Linked DNA regions of Homo sapiens. The protein of the gene in region 1 purifies or fractionates together with the protein of each later gene. This does not show direct contact. Each region holds a gene or a part of one and is shown in the gene's direction. Other genes may lie near its edges.

Region 1 (7,174 bases):
ACTGGTTATTTTAAGATAAAGTTTAGGGCCAATAAGGCAAAGGTAAAGGATGTAGTCCTTCTAAATCCTGCTTCTGTTTCAAAAGTTTAAGTTCCCTTCTCTCCATAATGCATTTTCTGACTACTTCCACCCATGTTATTCAATCTTCATTTCCTTTGAGCAGAAGATGCCCTTGATTGTTTTCCGTGTTCAACTAAGTTGTGGGCTGCTGGGGTCAGGGACCAAGTTTTATGCTTCTTTGGTATCACCCATGATGTCTAGCACACTGCTAGGCACAAAATAAGTGCTGTGAAACAAAAATGGAATCTCTGGACCCCAAACTGACTAAGCCAAAAGAAAAGCTAAGCTTGGGAACTGAGTCACTAAAAAAACTGCTTTCTGTTATTGGAAAAAACTACTTTAAAGTTCATATGGAACCAAAAAAGAGCCCACATTGCCAAGTCAATCCTAAGCCAAAAGAACAAAGCTGGAAGCATCATGCTACCTGACTTCAAACTATACTACAAGGCTACAGTAACCAAAACAGCATGGTACTGGTACCAAAACAGAGATATAGATCAATGGAACAGAACAGAGCCCTCAGAAATAATGCCACATATCTACAACCATCTGATCTTTGATAAACCTGACAAAAACAAGAAAAGAGGGGAAACGATTCCCTATTTAATAAATGGTGCTGGGAAAACTGGCTAGCCATATGTAGAAAGCTGAAACTGGATCCCTTCCTTGCACCTTATACAAAAATTAATTCAAGATGGATTAAAGACTTAAATGTTAGACCTAAAACCACAAAAACCCTAGAAGAAAAGCTAGGCAATACCACTCAGGACATAGGCATGGGCAAGGACTTCATGTCTAAAACACCAAAAGCAATGGCAACAAAAGCCAAAATTGACAAATGGGATCTAATTAAACTAAAGAGCTTCTGCACAGCAAAAGAAACTACCATCAGAGTGAACAGGCAACCTACAGATTGGCAGAAAATTTTTGCAATCTACTCATCTGACAAAGGGCTAATATCCAGAATCTACAATGAACTCAAATTTACAAGAAAAAAACAAACAACCCCATCAAAAAGTGGGTAAAGGACATGAACAGACACTTCTCAAAAGAAGACATTTATGCAGCCAAAAGACACATGAAAAAATGCTCATCATCACTGGCCATGAGAGAAATGCAAATCAAAACCACAATGAGATACCATCTCACACCAGTTAGAATGGCGATCATTAAAAAGTCAGGAAACAACAAGTGCTGGAGAGGATGTGGAGAAACAGGAACACTTATACACTGTTGGTGGGACTGTAAACTAGTTCAACCATTGTGGAAGTCAGTGTGGCGATTCCTCAGGGATCTAGAACTAGAAATACCATTTGACCCAGCCATCCCATTACTGGGTATATACCCAAAGGATTATAAATCATGCCGCTATAAAGACACATGCACACGTATGTTTATTGCAGCACTATTCACAATAGCAAAGACTTGGAACCAACCCAAATGTCCAACAATGTGGCACATATACACGATGGAATACTATGCAGCCATAAAAAGGATGAGTTCATGTCCTTTGTAGGGACATGGATGAAGCTGGAAACCATCACTCTCAGCAAACTATAGCAAGGACAAAAAACCAAACACCGCATGTTCTCACTCATAGGTGGGACTTGAACAATGAGAACACACAGACACAGGAAAGGGAACATCGCACACCACGGCCTGTTGTGGGGTGGGGGGAGGGGGAAGAGATAGCATTTGGAGATATATCTAATGTTAAATGACGAGTTACTGGGTGCAGCACACCAACATGGCACATGTATACATAAATAACTAACCTGCACGTTGTGCACATGTACCCTAAAACTTAAAGTATAATAAAATAAAAAATAAAAAAATTTTAAAAACCTGCCTTCTGTTGTTACCAGGTAGCTGCAACAATAGAAGGCCACATATCTCCCCAGATAGCCTCCCTCACAAATTGCTTACAGTGAAATGCCTTGTGGGTCCCTAAATCTTTCAGAATGCATATCCCTCCTATAAATGAGCCCTAAAACACAGTTCTGTTGAATCTCACTCTGACAATAACAGCTCATCTTCATATGTATGGTATAAGGACAAGACTTGGAAATCATCCCTCTGCCCACCCCAAGACAAATTCATAATTGACTTTCCCCCTATTTTCACATTTATCTTATGTAAAATGTAGATTTACTGAGCATGAGAGGAACACATAATCAGTATTCCTCTACCCACTCTTCACACGCAAAATGTGAATTCACTGGGCACTAATCAAAGCCTCACAAGAATGTAACTTCTTCCCTCATTGCCTACCTTCCCATTTCCCTTTTTTTTCTTTCTTTTCTCCTTCCCCTCCTGCTGGCTCTTTCCCCTTTAAATACTGAAGTCCTCAAAAACTCTCTTTGCAAAAGGCACAGATCACAGATGTTCCTGTATTTGTGCTTTCTCCTGGGGAATGTCCTTAACCTTGGCAAAATAAACCTCTAAAACGATTGAGACCTGCCTGTCATTTTTTTGGTGCTTAAAATCCATGATGGAATTTTTAATCACTATTTTAGACTTGGGTAAATCTGGCTGTGAAAGTAGTGACAGAGTCTTTTAGAATTTTCTTCTACCAAAAATAATTAATCAGAAAGTCCCTGAGAGAATTTCAGATACTCCTGTAAGGATCAAACCTAAATTTAAATTAGACTTGTAGATCTGTGCATACCCAGTGTCTCACACATATAAACTCAATAAAAATTTATCGAATGACCAAGTGAAGAAATGTTCTTTCAGCTTTTCCTTCAAGACTCAGAAAAAAGATATCTGCAGTTCCAGAATGGACTGAGTGAACAAGAAAAGAACAGATCAGTGACACAAAGACAGCCTTCTTTTTCCCTTTCAGGGTGACTCAAATTGTAGTCCTCATCTGAACAGTCTGAGACACAACTCTTGTCTCATATTAACTCGATAGGGCATTTGCTATACTCCCATTTACACAAACTGCTCAGATGCCCCAAATGCTGAGTCTGTTCGTCTTCATTTTATTCCTTTGGGAGATGCCGGTACAAACTTGTTTTTTCTTTCTTTTTTTAAATGGAGATGTGACCACCATAGCAACTAAAAGACATAAATCTTGCCTAATTGAATCAGTGTGCTCAAGATAATAGCCAGGGCAGAGACTGAGTTAAAACTGGGGTAAGGGTGAGAGTGGGGAAATGGATGAGGATGATAAAAATATTTATGTCCCTAGAATTTGTGGGTTTGGATTAATTCTGTTTCGTAAGGAATATTGTTGGCCTTCAAATGCAGTGCCACTTGGGAGAGAAGCAAGCGGGCAGTAGTTGAGGTGTCTCTGCAGTTGAATCGCAGTGAAAGGCAGGTTATGAGTATAGGGACCGCCCCTCGGCCATGTGGTCCCCTCCCTATCCTGAGGATAACGACATTTGAGAGAAGCCAATGGTATTGGAAGGCCAGAATCGAACTTAAGCCGCTTAGTTGGTACAACTGTAAACCCTCCCTCACAGAGGCTGGGCCCTGCAATCTTTCTAAGCAGGGTAAAGAAAAGTAAGGGGACTTCCTTTTCGAAGAGGAGGTTCCCGCGTGCTGCACCCGACCTTTCCCTCAGGGCCCAACACGCGTTATATAAATGCCAAGTTACTCAGGGACGCACACGTGAGAAGGCTGGGGCCCGACACACGCGGTGTAGTGCCGAAGTCACCGGTGTGGCGCGCCTGGGGGACACGCCGAAGCCCATTTCCCTCCCGCTTCTGGAAAGCAGTCCCCGCTCTTTCCAGCTGCTCCGCGGGGCGTATGGCTGTGCGCTACCTCCTGCGGACCCCAGGCTGGGCGAGGGGGCAGCGATGGCCACATGGCGCGCTCGGGGAGATGGCAGCTGCGCTTTGTTTCCAGCAGTGATAGGTGAGTCACTGGCTCCCGCAGCCCCAGAGCTGGGCAAACACTCAGGCCCAGGCAGCTGAAAAATTCACAGCAGGAGCAGCTACCGAAGCGACTGCAGCCTCTTCCTCCTCTTCCTCCTCCTCCTCCTCCTCCGCCACTGCTACCGCCACCACCGTGGTAGCCGCCTCCGCGCCCTGCCTCCGCCCCGTCCCCTCCTCCTCCACCCGCGAACTTAGTCAGCGGTTCGCGCCGCCGAGCGCCCATTGGCCAGCGGAACGCGTCGCGTCACAATGGAGCCGGTCGGAGGCGGCGAGCCGGACAGCGCCGGGGCTTCCCGCTGAGCCCGCAGCCTCCGGCAGCCGGGAAAGTGCGGGCGCGGGGCCGCAGCCTGCCCGCCCGGAGCGGCCCAGGAGCACGCCGCGGGGAGCGCGGGCGTCCGGGGCTGGAGTCGCGCAGGTAGGTCGGAGCGTGACACCCCGGTTCCAGGAGGGCGAGCCGCGCCGACCGAGGTGGTGGAGGAGGAGGACCGGATACGGGGACGCAGCAGGTGGGGCTGGCCGAACAGGTGCGGTTACCTGTTCACGCCTCACCTGCGAGCCAGGCTGCGGGCCGGTAGCGCGGCTGCAGAGACGAGTGGCCGCTTCGTTGTGCTCCCTGCCTTCGGGAGAGACGGAGTCCCACGCTGAGAGGACCTCTCCTGTGTGCTGGGGTCATTTGGAGCAAGAGGTGTGGGCGGTCGCGCCGAGACGGTCACCTCTCTTTCCCCCGGGAGTCTCGGCGTTGCACCTGAGCGTGAGTCCTCGGGGCGGGGCGGGAAAGGGGTTCCGCTTTCCCAGGCTGGCGTCTCGCTCCAGATGAGCGCAACTCCCCTGAGGGTGCCCCCATTTGGTCGCTCTGTTTTGCCCCCTGCGCTGGCGCTGTTGGGAACTATTTTATGCTCTTGGGAACTATTTTATGCTGTTGGATACGCGTTGGTTGCCTATAATTTGGTGGTGGTGTTGGGCGTTGATTTGTTTGAGAAAGAAAGGGCAAGCGTTACCAATTTAAGAAGAAGACTCAAGAGTTTCCCCTGAGCTTAGTTGAGCAGGTGCTGAGAGGTCAGAAGGGAGGAGGCTCAGTATTGGCTCATTAATCTGTGTGCTCAACTGACTTCCTAAAGTCCATAGATTGCCTTTAGTTAGATGACATTTGTGGAAAACTTTTTTTTTCTTTGTGGTCAAAAAGACACCCCTCTAAAAGAACAAAACCGACATGTGAACTTCCTTGAATAAATTCACTTCGCCTAAAGACTTCAAACAAACAAACAAAAAAACACTCCACTGGTAAAAGATAACAGTATGAACATTTTAAATTGTAGATATATAGCCAAATTAAAACAGGCAATTTGTTCAGCGTATATTAAGAAGACATTACGTAGCATGATTTTTATTAAAAGACAACCTATTTGCAAATGATATAGTAGTCTTTGCAGAACACCCCAGAAATCTTAAAACAGATTTATCTTTATCAGATGGTTCTGTCCCCTAAACCTAGGTGTAGGAGTGAGGATGGAAAAGAAGTCAAACTGCAGTGTAATTTTTTAAACAATTCCAGTACCCTCTATGTGTACAGGCTACACCTCCTGAGAACCCCAAATGCTCTTTGTTTTGTTTCTTTGTTTTGTTTTGAGACGGAGTCTCACTCTGTCGCCCAGGCTGGAGTGCAGTAGTGCGATCTCGGCTCACTGCAACCTCCACCTCCTGGGTTCAAGTGATTCTCCTGCCTCAGCCTCCCGAGTAGCGGGGACTACAGGGGCCCGCCACCACGCCCAGCTAATTTTTATATTTTTAGTGGTGGCGGGGTTTCACCATGTTGGCCAGGCTGGTCTGAAACTCCTGACCTCAAGTGACCCACCCACCTCGGCCTCCCAAAGTGCTGGGATTACAGGTGTGACCCCAAATGCTCTCTGAATTGTGGGTGCCGAGGTGACTTTCTTTTTCTCCTGGCTTTCCTTGTCAGCAGCTCTACTCAGAGAATATAAAGTGACAGCCAACCCCCAAGGTAATTGGGCCTGTGTAATTTTAGAATATAAGCCCTAACATGTCTGATATTTCTGTAAGCTAAAAAGAGGTCTCTTGAATGGGGGTGATGTTGTCATTGAGTGCACCCTTGGGTCATGGCACTTTCCTTATACTTAGTATCCCCAACAACATTTTTAAATCTGCATGTCGGAATTAAGTTTACCATTCTTTGAAATGTGTTCTCTTTTTCCTCAATTGGTAAGGTGTTCCAACATGTTCAGCCTATTATGAATCTTTTCACATTTTGAATGATTTCATTTGACTAGTTGAGATTTGCTTTTTTAAACCTCTTCTCTACCACTATCACCATTTCCCATTGCTATTTTAATTTTCAGAATCCTCAGAGTGAAAACACCAACAGTAAGTAAAATGAAAAGGGGCTTAATAAAACTTAAAGGATACTAAGCCTTCCAAGTTTTTTAGACTAATCCATGTATTTTCCTGTAGTGGCCTGAAATTTGTTATTTTTTGTTGTTTTCTGAAGTTTAAGGGGAAAAATATTTTACAATTTAGAACATCCTTGTTTTAGCCAATGTTTTTCTTATAAACAAGGGTTTTTGTTTTTGTATTTTAGTTTTCAAATTCTTCTAATAGTACCTGAGTATTTTATGTTTTCTGGACTTTTTACTATTCATAGCCTGTTTAACCCAATCCCGGATTTTCATTTGGTGTCTCTAAAGTTGAATTCTCTAATTTTACTCTTATTTCTCCTTCCCAGCATCCTTCTACCACACCCTGATATTATTAGAAATGAATGCATTCTGATTCTGTCATGTTATTACACACTTGGTGGCATGATTTGCATTGCCTTGCATGGAGCAGGTTCTCCACTGCTATCCTGACTCCCAGAGCACTGGGTACATCAGCAAACAGTTCAGACCTGTGACCATTCAAGAGGAATTTGGGAGACCCAGTTATAGTGTAGAATTTATTTAACCATTTGTAAAATACCTTCTAATTTGTGTCATATCTGTTTTCATATTGCTGCCTTTTATTGCTATTGCCTACTTTCATTTTATTCCCCATCTGTATTTTCTAAACTTCCTACATGCCTTTATTATGACTTAATTTCTCTGGTGTTTAAAATAATGCCTTTGGCAGACATAATAACCTATTTTTCTTTTTCTGATCATTAAGGTTGATCTTAAGTAAAATTAGGCCTAGCTCCAATCACTGATCTCTCTCCTAAGTTCTTATCACTGTGGTTCATTTAG
Region 2 (7,028 bases), on another chromosome or scaffold:
AAGATGCCCCATCATCTTCTAGTCTTTTATAAGATTTTGGATGGTTGTGGTCGCCATGATAAAAAATAGCAGCAGCCATCTGCATGCCAGGATAGCTGTCGTATATACTTTTATCTCTCTTTTTCCACTCACCAGCCCTTAGAGGTAGATGTTACCCTCAGCCCACCAGCAGGAAAACAGGCTTAGAGGGGCAGCACAATTTGCCCAAGGTCACTCCTATGGGTAGTGGCAGAGCCATGATTCAAACCCAAGGCTACATGGCCCCAAGGCCTTTGTTTTTAAACTACTAAGCTGTATTTTCTGCCATTTGTGTACTGCCTGGTGTTTTGTCTTTTGTCCTTGCCATTACCAGCCATAGACAGATACATAGTTTGGCTGTCATTTGAATGGTAGTGGACTCTGTTGCACAATGTTGAGGTACCATAGTTTATGTAACTATCTCCCCACTTGGTTTGTTTCCAGTTTCTCAGTATTATAGATAGTGCAGGTGTAAATATCTTTGCGCAAATTAGGGTGGTTTGTTGGAGTTTTTAGGTATTTGATGGTGGTCCGCAAAGTAGTATTTTTGAGGCAAAGAGTTATAATTTTATGATTCTCCAGAAAGTCTATACCATTCATTCACCCAAGCAGTGATTACTTTTGGAGTGCCCACTGTGTACCAGGTGCTGGACGTGAAGAGGTAATTCAGAAACAGCCCCTCTCTCAGAGAACTAACAGTCTGGTATGGGATGGATGATGCAGCACAGAATGAATGCTACTAAAGTCGGGGTTTGGGCAAGGGGCAGTGAGAGCACTGAGAAACAGTGTCCCCTGGTAGTATCTCTGAGTGTTCCTTTCCCTCTGCAGCATGGGGCAAGACGGGAGGAGCATGATAACAGGGCTGGCTGCAGAGCTGCCTCCTGGCTGAGGACACCCCCCACCAACACCCACGGGCTTTCCTGCCACCGCCTGTTGGCTCAGTCACTGCTGCCCATCTGCCACTAGGGGGCGCCGAGCAGAGAGGATGGAGGGAGGGGGCACCCGGGACAACAGGACTGGGGGCTCCAGCAGTGGGAGGAGTGGCAGCCTAAGCCCTTGTCTGTCCTCCAGGCCTCCTCTTCCCCTGTATGCCCACCGCAGCCAGGGTGACAACACGGTGCCCAGTCCACACTCATTCAGCAGACAGGAATGTGTGCATGCCTTAAGGGCATAGCTCTGTGCATTTTCACGCACCAAGCACTGTGCTAGATGCTAGGAATGCAGAAGTGGCCTGACATGGTCCTTGACCCTGAGATGCACTTGGTCTAGAGGGTTGGACAGACAAGGGAAGAGACAATCCAACTTGTGTGCTGGAGGCCTTCACAAGTGGCAACAGGAGCGTTGAGCTCCCTAGTGAGTCCCCTGGCAGTGCGTGAGAGTTCATTTCTCCAGTGCTCCGCTCTTATGACTTTGGCTGTGACATTGCCCATCTTCTAGCCTGGAATTTCTCCATCTATAAAATGGAGGGAATGATATCTATGTCTGCAAGGGCCTTCTGACTCAGATGTGCCATGAGCCTAAAGCAAGCCTGAGCTTCTTCCACAGAAGAGCCCCCAGCCCTGGTCCCCACTTTAGTCACTGAAGAAAGTCTCCTTTCTCTTCTCGCCCACATGCTCTCCTTACATGGTTTTCCTTGGCATTCTGCCTCTGGCCTTTTCCTTCTCTCTTTCTACGTATGTTCCCATGACTTCAGTTACCACTGTGTGCTGATGACACCTACATCTCCATGCTCGCCCCCATCCTCTCCACTGAGTTTGTGACTCATATAACAATGAAAATAATCAGCATTTGCTAAATCCCAGATACAATACTGTAATTACGGTATATTATCTCATCTCATCTCTCCAACAACATTGTGAATTAGGCAGTGCCACCCCATTTTATAGGTGAGTAGAACCGAGTTCAAGAGATGCTGAGACTTTCCCAAGGCCCCAAAGTTGATAAGTGATGGGGCCAGGATTTGCAAACCTCTACCTGTTGAGCTCCACTGCCCATGCTCTTATCCATCACACTATATGTCCTAGAGTACAGGCAGCCGCCAAAGACCCATTTCCACTTGGATATTCCACATACACCTCAATTTCATGTCTAAACTTGGCCTCATCATTTCCCTTCTGTCCCAATCTGCCTTTTCCTCTCTTCTCCATGGCAATAAATGGCACCATCAACCCAGTGATACCCCAGCCAGAACACTGGGAGTTTTCCAAGATCCTTCCTCTCCCTTACCAACCCCCATCTCCCCAACAATCTTCTCCAATCTTCTTCCACATCATGGTGATTTTCCCCCCACTCTCCTCCAGCCTCACTGCTGTTGCCTTCCAAGGCCATTCATCCTGTTCTCTTTTTGGGCTCCTGTAGCAATCTTCTTACCAGCCTCCCTGCCTCGACTCTGTCTGCTTGAGTCCATCCCCTGCACACCAGCCAGGGTGATCCTTTGCAGACACACGTGATCACCTCACCTTACTGCTTCAAAACTTCTGCTTTCTGTGACTCTACAGCAGAGCTCAAAGCTGGCCACCCATGGGCTGAAATCCATTCAGAAGACATGTTTTGCTTGGTCCAAAATGTTCTTAAAACATTTTGAATTAGTCGCCAACATTGGAAAATCAGGAAATTTCACATAAAAGTTCATATATATTGGCTTCTCTTGCAAAAGTGAAAAGAACTGGTAACTCTGGGTGCACATCCCTTCAGGGCAATGATTGGATGGAGCTGAGTGGTGGTTGCCCTCTTTAGAAGGGGTGTGGGCTTTTCAGTTTGACAGTCTCCAGCATCCCCTAGTGTCTCTTAGGCCCTGGTCGCACCCCTGCTTCCAATTATCTGCCTGAGAGTTGGGGCATTTGAGTTCATGACCCTGGTGCATGGGATGAAGCCCAAAGCCCTCAGCATGGCTTCTAGTGTCCTATGTGTCGCAGCCTGGAGCAGACCAGCCCTGCGAACCTCTGAGGCTAGTACCTGCTAACTGCCCCGTTACACTCTCCCCTGTGGCCCCATGGAACCCTTATCCATAGTTCTCTGAATTGCCCCACTCTTGTCTGTCTCCATGCAAGCTTGTGCTTTGGAATTCCTAGGCCCCTCCTTAAGTCCTATTTGTCCTTCTGGGCTTTGCACCAGTACTTGCTGTACCAAGAAGCATTCCTTGTGCCCCTGGCTGAGTTTTGTTTTCCCATAACAGGTGGCGCAGACCTCAGTCATCCCACCAGCTACCCTGTGTTGTAGTTGTTGACTGTGAGTCTGCAGTTGCAGGGAACCTGCCTTCTTTATCTTCCTGTCCTCAAAGCTTTGCACAGGACTTGGAATACACAAGGTGCCTCATAACTGTTGAATGAATGGATGAATCAGTGAAAGACTGATTTGGGAAAATAATAGTCTAGGATATGATGTCAACCCTAATTGCTTGGGGTGGGGGTTCCAGGTCCCTTTCATTCTTCAGCATTCCCCACTCTGAGTTCCCACTCAGAGTGATACCCACAACATCCTATAAACCATGCCCCCATTCTCCAAGATGTGGAATATATCCAGGCCTACTGGGATGATACTTTTTAGCAATGATAGAGGGAAAATATATCATTTTTGGTATCCCTGGGGGAGAGTTGGCACATTCTTCAGTTATTTGAATAATAATTAAGATAATGCCAGCATTTAACACTCACTGAGCACTTACATTGTACCAGACCCTGAACTAAGAGCTCTCAGTATATTGTTTCATTTATTCCTTCAACACTAAGAAGTAGGTAGTACTATTGTCCCCATTTTACAGGCAAGTAAACTGAGATACAAGGATTTTAAACAACTTTTCACATGGCCCGTAAGCGGTAGAGTCAAGATTTGAACTCAAATCTAACTTCATAGTTAACATTCTCAACCACTACACCATACTTCCTCAATGACATTTCTCTTTAGAAACACGAGGAAATAAATGTGGGAATGAAGGGTATACAATTATGTGTACAGTAAGATTGCAAATACTAATTTAGAAAAGAAAGAAAAGAAAATCCTGAGGCAGAGAAAATGACCAAAGAGACAAACTCATGTGAAAATTTTCTTTAATGAATACATACCACTTTTATGATTAAAAAAAGAGTCCTCTCTTTGTAGTGACCCTAGAAATAAGTGGCAGGACAGAGGGCAGGAAGGGGCTGGGTTGAGTACCCAGCTAATCAGTGGGGCTGTCTCTTGAGTAGTTGCCAGTGATCAGTAAAAGGAACAGTCATCAGGCAGCAGCTGTGACCTCAGTACCTGCACCCTCATGGTACAAAGGTGAAGTGGGTCACTATTCCTGCCATCTCACCATCTCCCCTCTTCCTCCAGGTGCTTACACTCCAGAGCCCCTCAGCAGTTTCCGGTGGGCTCTTCTCTCAACTGGCCTCATGTTCTTTTATCACTTCAGCGTCTTGCAGATCCTCGGCCTGGTAAGTTTGGTTATATCCCCTTCTATCCCCTCTGTTTGCAGTTCTCCATAAATCTTGGTAATCCTGGTTGGTGCTGACGTATCACTTTGTTTTGAAAATGCAAGATGCTAAAGGCCAGGATGTCAGATTGTTGTGTCTGGATTGCTGATTTATGATCTACAGCCTTGGCCTCTCCAAAGAGTTTTCTGAGTCTTTCAGTAATGACTGTTTCTTTCATCCCTGGGGAGGCAAGGATGCCTTTCACTCATGGCCACTTGGGTCGGAAACAATGAGCTGCAACTGGAAAGTGGTTTGTTGTGGACCCCATGGGGAGGCAGGACCCTAACCCTGCCCCTTGGCCTGGGGGAGTCTTCTGACCTTGGGTCCATCCTGGGCCCATTCATAGGCCCTGAAGGCTGCACTCTTCCCTGAGCTTCATGGCCAGTGAAGTGTGGTGTTGGGGAAATCCTGTGGCATTCTGGGGTGTTTAGAACTTCCTGGAGTCATGAAGAATGGTTGGATGGTTGGACTCAGTAGCTGAGTTATCCAGAGCCCAAAATTGCTGAGTGTAAGAGTGTATATCAGTGGCAAAATGAGTAGGAAGAGCTCAGGACTGGGGCTGGGGGTCAGGAGACCCAAGTTCAAGTCCTGGCTCTGCCACTGCTCTGAATGAGTCACCTCACCCTTGAGGGCAGAGAGTTCTCCACCTCTCTTTGACATGGTATAAAAGCCCCAACTTCCCTGAGAGGTGGTGAGGACTTGTCTTTAATGTGAACAGGCTTGAAGGGCTTTGGAAGGCAGGTGCCGCGACCGTCCCCGGGGCAGGTGTCGCATGTCTGGTTTTGTGTGCAAGTGGCAGTAATGTAGCATTAGCCATGTGGAGCCTCGCGTGACCTAGCATGACTAGGGCGTGTAACTGATGTCCCCAACACCTTTGTAGAAGCAGTCACTTTCTCTTCCTCATTCTGGTGTATGGCTCTGCTCTGGTTTGCTGGGGGCTTAGTCTGAGCTCCTTGCCAACAGTGTGAATGCTTCCTGCGCTCTCAGGAGGAAGCCGTACAAAGTTCACACCCTTACCACTTGCTGCTCTCCACTGGGACCCAGATTCCAGAGGCATCAGTGTGCTCATGTCACCCTACATACCATGCTCAGGCAACGCCTCCTACAAGGAGGGCAACCCTCACCCCATTCCTCACCATAAACCCCCATCCATCTTTCATGAGTCCATTCAGGTACCACTTCTGTCATGAAATCTTCTCTGAGGACTCAGCCCCCATATTGTATGCTCCTCAGACCTCCTCATAGTGTATAAAGCTGGGTGAGCCCTGTCTGGTTTGGGGTCAGATGTAGTAAACCTTTGACCACCCCCACTTGATTGATTGCAGTTACGTGGAGGCAGGGCCCACGCTGTGGGCTGTACTTTTAGCCTGTAACACCTCTCCGGGGTCTAGGCACATAGTAGATGCTCAGGAATGGCAACAAGTTCTGGGCCCAAACAGAAGGCAAGACCGTGAGCAAAACTGAATAGCTTTTCCACTAGACGGCCCTCCGCCATCACCTCCAGAGGCCTCTAGCTTGACTCACTCAGAAAACCGAGGGGAGAGAAGAAATCCCTTTATAAACAGGTGGGGATTGGTCAATCCCTCCTTGTCTAGTCCCCCATTAGGTAGAGATGGCTGAACTGGCAGAAGCCAGAGAAAGCCTAAGGATGGTGAACGCTCACTCTACCTCCCTTGTCCCTGCAGGTCACCGAAGTGAATTTGAACAACATGCTGTGTCCGGCCATCTCAGACCCATTCTACGGCCCCTGGTATCGCATCTGGGCCTCGGGACACCAGACTCTCATGACCATGACCCACGGGAAGCTGGTCATCCTGTTCTCATACATGGCTGGGCCCTTGTGTAAATATCTGCTGGATTTGCTCCGGCTTCCAGCCAAGAAAATAGACTGAAGGTGCTTATTTTTTTTTTTTTTCCTCCCTGAGGAAGCAAGTCGTGACTTGACTTGGAGAACACCCAGTTCTTGATAAAATCATGGGAGAGGGCAGTAGGATGTTTGGTGTATTTCTTTTTCCTCCTTTCTGTCCCTTTCTTCTACCACTCTTCCTTTCCCAGCTCTTCCCCCTACGATGTCTCCTTGAGCCTGGGGTGTAGTGCTGGGCGCTGGATTTTCCTCCTTCCCTTTGGCTCTCTCTCTGCTCCTAGTGGCCTTACATGGGGAGATTGCAGTGAGCGGCTCTTTCACTCTGCTTGTCGGTGCTTTAACAACAGCTGGTTGAGGAGAAAGGGAACAACAAGTAGTAGTTCTTTTGGCATCGAAGCAATGAGATTGGGTTGTGTTTCATTTCTCCACTGCCAGGGACCTCCAGGCTTATGCTGGCGTCCCATTTAGTCTCCAGCACAGCCCTTACCACGGGGGACTGAGGCCTTGTTTCTATACCAGCGGCAAGCCCAGAGCCGAGGGATTTCACAGCTCGTGGTCAAGACAGAACCAGCCAGATTCTGGTCACTGGTGTCCCATGACTCAAAGTAAACAGCCAACCAGCCACTCCCTCCAGGATGCTGCCTGGGGTGGGAGGTGAGAGCACCACCCAGCCCAAGGGCTAGATTCCATTGAGA
Region 3 (6,234 bases), on another chromosome or scaffold:
TCCTGGGAGGGAAGCTGAAGCTTAGGACTTAGTTCCTTAAAAAATAATGTACTCATAAGAAATTCCTTCTATCACTGTTGTTACTGCCTTTTTGATGATTTGAAGTCATTGAACTTTGAAACAGCTCTTTTACCAACAAAGAAATACACACCTGCCATGAGAGGGTTTTCAGCCTTTTTTCCCCATTGTTGTTTTCTTTCAACAGCTGCTGGGCATGCTGTGTGCTTGCATCGTGTTGTGCAGAAGGAGTAGAGATCCTGCTTACGAGCTCCTCATCACTGGCGGAACCTATGCATAGTTGACAACTCAAGCCTGAGCTTTTTGGTCTTGTTCTGATTTGGAAGGTGAATTGAGCAGGTCTGCTGCTGTTGGCCTCTGGAGTTCATTTAGTTAAAGCACATGTACACTGGTGTTGGACAGAGCAGCTTGGCTTTTCATGTGCCCACCTACTTACCTACTACCTGCGACTTTCTTTTTCCTTGTTCTAGCTGACTCTTCATGCCCCTAAGATTTTAAGTACGATGGTGAACGTTCTAATTTCAGAACCAATTGCGAGTCATGTAGTGTGGTAGAATTAAAGGAGGACACGAGCCTGCTTCTGTTACCTCCAAGTGGTAACAGGACTGATGCCGAAATGTCACCAGGTCCTTTCAGTCTTCACAGTGGAGAACTCTTGGCCAAAGGTTTTTGCGGGGAGGAGGAGGAAACCAGCTTTCTGGTTAAGGTTAACACCAGATGGTGCCCCTCATTGGTGTCCTTTTAAAAAATATTTACTGTAGTCCAATAAGATAGCAGCTGTACAAAATGACTAAAATAGATTGTAGGATCATATGGCGTATATCTTGGTTCATCTTCAAAATCAGAGACTGAGCTTTGAAACTAGTGGTTTTTAATCAAAGTTGGCTTTATAGGAGGAGTATAATGTATGCACTACTGTTTTAAAAGAATTAGTGTGAGTGTGTTTTTGTATGAATGAGCCCATTCATGGTAAGTCTTAAGCTTGTTGGAAATAATGTACCCATGTAGACTAGCAAAATAGTATGTAGATGTGATCTCAGTTGTAAATAGAAAAATCTAATTCAATAAACTCTGTATCAGCCCCCAACATATTATTTTTCATTATTTGGGGGATATTTCAGTTCCAGAGCAGCAGTATCATGTTTTCTTTGTTGGTGCTGTCTATAGTTCATCATGGTTTACGTGTGTTTTCGTTATAGCTGTTGCCAGATTCTAAAGGGCTTGATATTCAAAAAACCACAGATGCTTTCAGTCCAGTATATCCTAGAAATATAGAGCTCTACTTTGTGCAATGCACTGGGGATACAGTGGCGATACTGTCCTTGTCTTCAAGGAGTTCGGAGTCCTAGTATAGGAGACATACATAGGAGAAGATAATTTTCACACTGCAGTGGTTGTAGTAATAGAATGGGAGTCCAAAGGGGAGTTCCGGAGAGGTCAGGGGTGACTTCCTGGAGGAGATGCCCAAGCTTGGAGGCTGGATAGGCTTTGTTGAAAGATGGTACACAAGAGTGTGAAACAAAATTGTGTGTGCAGGGAGCTTAAAATACAAGGCTGGGGAAAGAAGTTGGAGAAGCAGGAAAGCCCAGGCCCTCTAGTGTCTTACGGAACATCCTGTGGAGGTGAGAGCTGACTTGTAGGTGGAAGCAGCTCTTTGGAGGTTTGATTTGGAAGGTGAACTGAGAAGAAGGTGGTGATGCAAGCCGGCCGTGCTGAAGCCAGGATGAATTGGTGTGACTGGGCTTCAGTTAGGCTGGCATAGCAGTTGAGAGAGCTTAGCAGTGGGCAGCAGGGCACTGTTGGGGGCGGTGGTGAGCGGTGGATTCTGGCTGTTTGGAGGCAGGACAGTGGTGGAATTCGATCATTGATTGGACGTGGGACAGAGAAGGGAGAAGAGAAGACTCATCTAGGATGAGTCCCAGGTTTCTGGCTCAGTCAACTGGGGAAACAAAGTCACAGAGCTAGGGAGTAGTTAGAGAACACATCTGGGGGTGTGACTCATGGTCAGTTTTGGGCTCGTCAGTTTTGAGATGCCCAAATATCATGCAGATCTGTCCCACCTGAAAATGGAGAAGACACGGGAAAGGAGAGGAGTAAAAACTAACTCCTTTTCACAAAGTGGAAGTTACCAGAATGTGATTTCAGAGGCCCCGGGGGATTTATCATGTGACTACTGACCCATCCCACCTCTTGCCCCTGCCTGTTGCACAGTGGGCAAGAATGTTTGTGACCTTTCACTACCACCACCTCCCCCGAGCATGGTCCCCCCAGTTTTCAATATGAACCATCCTGTGGGTACCCTGTCACAGGCTGGCCCTGAGGTGAGCAATATTTGGACTGTGATGTTGGTTGTTCTCCACTCTTTCTACAGGACAGAACAGGGCCTCTAGAGTGGGAAATGGCTTTGGGAAATATGCCAAGCAGTAGCCTTGTTCTTCAACTTGCCCAAGAGGATAATTCTCCACACCCTTCCTGTACTCAGTCCTCAGTTTGCCTGGTGAGAGAGCAGCCTCCTCCCGTGTGCTCTGCCAGCTGGACCCAGACTGGCCATATTACCAGTGAGACCAAAAAGATGGAGGTGGGGAGGTAGCTCTGAGGTCTGGGAAACCATTCCAGCTCCTGCCAGTTTTAACTTGTGTTTAATTCCTGGCACAGTTGTCCTGGAAATGCCTTTTTCTCTTGCCTGGGAACCACTAGAAGGGGATGTTGTCTGTGTTGGCCAGGGCCATGCAAATTCAACATCTTGTTTCTGCCCTTCCCCCGTGTAGCTGAGGCTAGGTGTTGGCATTACCCAGTGCTTGTTCTTCAGAGAGCAAAAGCACTGCTCGTCATGTCTGAAATTTAGTGAGTGAGCTCACCCACTAGGCTGGTGTTTCCTGCCCGTGGCTGCACATTGGAAGCACCGGGGCACTTTGAGAACTACAGATGCCTGGGTCCCAGAGCATCTAAGGTGCTCTAGGGTGTGTCCAGGACACAGCCCTGGTTGAGGACCACTGCTATATTGTATGGCCTCTTTTAAAAAAGTTAATTTTACTTGGAAATGATTTCAAAGCTACAGAAAAGTTGCAAGAATAAAAACTGTACAAATGAGGCTCAAATATCCTTTGCCCAGATACACCTATTAACATTTCGTCCCATTCTATCTGTCATGTGTGTTCTCAAATGTGTGTGCGTTCTCTCTCCCTTGCGCCAACCCCCTGTCTCTCCCTCTCCCTCCCTCCTGCTGCCTCCACACCTGTCATGGCCTTTTACCCCTAATACCTCAGTGGGTACTTACCAAGAAGAAGATACTCTCTGACGACTGCAGTACAGTTGTCAAATTCCGTCCATCTAACACTGATAGAATACCTCACCACTCATATTCCCATTGGCCGCATCGTGTCCTCTATAGCACCTTTCCCTCTGCGGTGCTGGATCTGGTCTGGATCAGGTAATCAGTTGAGTTGTCATGTCTCCTTGGTCTTCTTTAATCTGGATCATTTCCATAGCTTTGTCTGTGATGATAGGAACAGTTTGTAAGGATACAGTTCGTTTTAGGTGGTGCTGCTTATCTGTGTTTGTCTGCGATTTCCTCGTGATTAGATTTGGTTTTGCATTCCAGGTGGCTGAACCACTACCTGCGTCACGCGGCCTCTCAGGGCATCGCATCTCGAGGCACACAATGCCCATCTGCCCCACAGTGGGGATGTTCGTTTTGATCATCTAGTCCAAGGAGGAGGAAATGTGAACAGGAAGGTTTTAATATAAGTAATTGTTAACTGTGTAGAAGGTAGTTAACTACTAAAAGGGATAAAAAAGAGCTCTAAAGCAGCTTAGCAGAGAACAGCCATCACCCCTAGGGCTAAGGGAAGAGAAAACAGAGAAGGAACGTGGAAACTCAGAGGAGGTTCCCCAAGGTGGAGAGACCTCCGAGGGGTGGCTGTGGTTGCCTGGGATATGCTGCCTGTCCCATGCTGGAGAATCAACTTACTGGAGGTGCCCCCCCGCCAAGCCACAGGAGCAGAGAGCTGTCACGGTGGGGAATGCTGCTGGGACCCGTGCAGGACGAAAGGAGACAGAAGAAAAAGGCCATCTTCCTCCTCTAGCCTTGTTAGCCCCTTCAGAGCCCACTGTGGGTCAGGCTGGCAAAGGGTAAAGGAGTTTTCAGAGCCCCCTCTTCAGTGTGACAAGGAAGGGCAAGGTCAGGGAAATTTGGAGTTAAGAGGCAATAAATGAGTACCTGGCACACCTAGTCGAGGTGTGTCCACTTTCTCCATAGCATGGTTACTGTTTTTTTCTTTTCAACTAATAAGAAATCTCTGGAGACACACTGTCTCCATGTACATACCCTGTTCCTCATGAGACTCTTCCCCATTCCCCGACCAGGTTCAGCAAATGTTGCTGATTCTGGCCTGATTCAATCTTTATGATGACTGCCAAGCGACGTTTCTGCAGCCCAGCACTCCTTCCTCATTTGCCAGTCATCCCTCCCTTCTCCTTCATTTATTTTCATATATCCACTATGGATTCCCATTTTTTCAAAAGTCGACTTCATCATTGACCTTTGGGGATGGGGGAAGAGTTCCTCAGATAGTTCCCGACTTGGCCAGCGAGAGCCCCTTCGAGTGCCTCCTATATCCCAGCATTTTTGGAAGCACTCCCCTAATTTCTGATCTAACAAGATGTTCCAGGCCCCTGGGCACCAGCCATGGATCAGTGTTTGTCCCAGGAGCCCTGGTCCCTGGCACTAGGTGTGCTTATTGCAGCTGGGGTGTCTTTGCTTCTTGTCCTATAGATGATTGACAGAGCTTGTCTTACTGCCTTTTTTAAGTGTATTTTTTTAAACAAAAGTAATTGGTGCTTTAAAAAATGTGAACAATACAGACATCTGTAAAGAAGTACCCACAGGGAAGCAAGTTCAGCAGTTCAGCAATGGCATGTGTCTTTGCAGACTACATACACAGAAACAGACTTGGTATTGGGTTTTGGTTTTTGCTTTTTGCTAATAGGAATTTTATCCTACAAGATCCTCTTTCTGTCTTCACAACATAGTCTGATGCTCCTTCCATGTCTAACTGTAGGATTTGTCATTCCATTGTGTTAGCTGTGTGGGTACATTAGTACCATGATTAACCAAGGTGTATAAAGGGCAGGCCTGCAGGCTGCCTCCAGTGCCTCCACTACTCGCCACAGTGATCATCTCTATACACACACTGCAGTCATTTACAATTTTTAAAATGAAAACAATTTTTATTGAGATGCAATTCACATGGCATAAAATTAACGATTTTAAAGTAAAGAAGTTGCCTTGAGTACATTCACCATGCTATAGAACCACTGCCTGTATCTAGTTTCAAAGCACTTTCATCACCCTGTGTCATGTATTTTTACATGAACTCCAAGGGTGGATTCTTGTTAGTTGGATTTACTCTGGATGGAAAAGTCATGTTTGGCTGGGTGCAGTGGCTCATGCCTGTAATCATAGCACTTTGGGAGGTCGAGACAGGTGGGTCACTTGAGATCAGGAGTTCAAAACCAGCCTGGCCAACATGGTGAAACCCATCTCTATTAAAAATACAAAAAATTAGCAGGGCCTGGTGGCATGCACCTGTAATCCCAGCTACTTGGGAGGCTGAGGCAGGAGAATCGCTTGAACCGGGAGGCAGAGGTTGCAGTGAGCCGAGATTATGCCACTGCACTCCAGCCTGGGTGACAGAGCAAGACTCTGTCTCAAAAAAAAAAAAAAAAAAAGTCACGTTTAAACATTTTCATGGATACATCTGGTTGCTCTCCAGAAAGCTTATATCAATTTCTATTCCCACCAGCAGTGAATGAAATGTGCATTTCTTTACACCCTTGTTGACACTTTTGGTGTGATCAGCCTTCATCTTTTCTTCCATTCTGAGAGATGAAAATATGTGTTTATTTGACTGTTAGCTAGGGCCAGGATGCTTTTAAAGGTGTTTCAGCCATTTGTATCTTCTGAATTTTGCTTCTGTCCTCTGCCCGGTTTGATTGGTTATTGGGTTTTTTTCTTTCGGATCTTAACAGAGTTTACTTAGGAAACTTTTCTGTGAAGCTTAATGTCTGTAGCTATTGTGAATGCAATGGTTTTCCTAACTTATTTCCGAGTTGGTGGTTGTTGGTGTGTAACAGCACCTGCTTTTTGGGTGCATCCTTGCAGTTCTTGAAAATAACTTGTGTGTTGCACGTGGCTTTCTATTGCAGTGCCTGTGA

The links.
Region 2: the proteins of LRRC8B (region 1) and TMEM164 purify together in Homo sapiens (affinity purification with mass spectrometry; 2 studies listed by BioGRID and IntAct, with this or other methods). This does not show direct contact.
Region 3: the proteins of LRRC8B (region 1) and TSPAN3 purify together in Homo sapiens (affinity purification with mass spectrometry; 2 studies listed by BioGRID and IntAct, with this or other methods). This does not show direct contact.

Annotation. Positions count from the first base shown.
Region 1 is NC_000001.11:89,520,667-89,527,840, forward strand, and holds the start of LRRC8B (volume-regulated anion channel subunit LRRC8B), read left to right. Parts: upstream 1-4,162; 5' UTR 4,163-4,356; intron 4,357-6,295; exon of another isoform or gene 6,296-6,320; intron 6,321-7,174. UniProt on the Homo sapiens protein: Non-essential component of the volume-regulated anion channel (VRAC, also named VSOAC channel), an anion channel required to maintain a constant cell volume in response to extracellular or intracellular osmotic changes.
Region 2 is NC_000023.11:110,167,091-110,174,118, forward strand, and holds part of TMEM164 (transmembrane protein 164), read left to right. Parts: intron 1-4,329; coding exon 4,330-4,430; intron 4,431-6,154; coding exon 6,155-6,361; 3' UTR 6,362-7,028.
Region 3 is NC_000015.10:77,040,899-77,047,132, reverse strand, and holds the end of TSPAN3 (tetraspanin-3), read left to right. Parts: intron 1-205; coding exon 206-298; 3' UTR 299-5,729; downstream 5,730-6,234. UniProt on the Homo sapiens protein: Regulates the proliferation and migration of oligodendrocytes, a process essential for normal myelination and repair.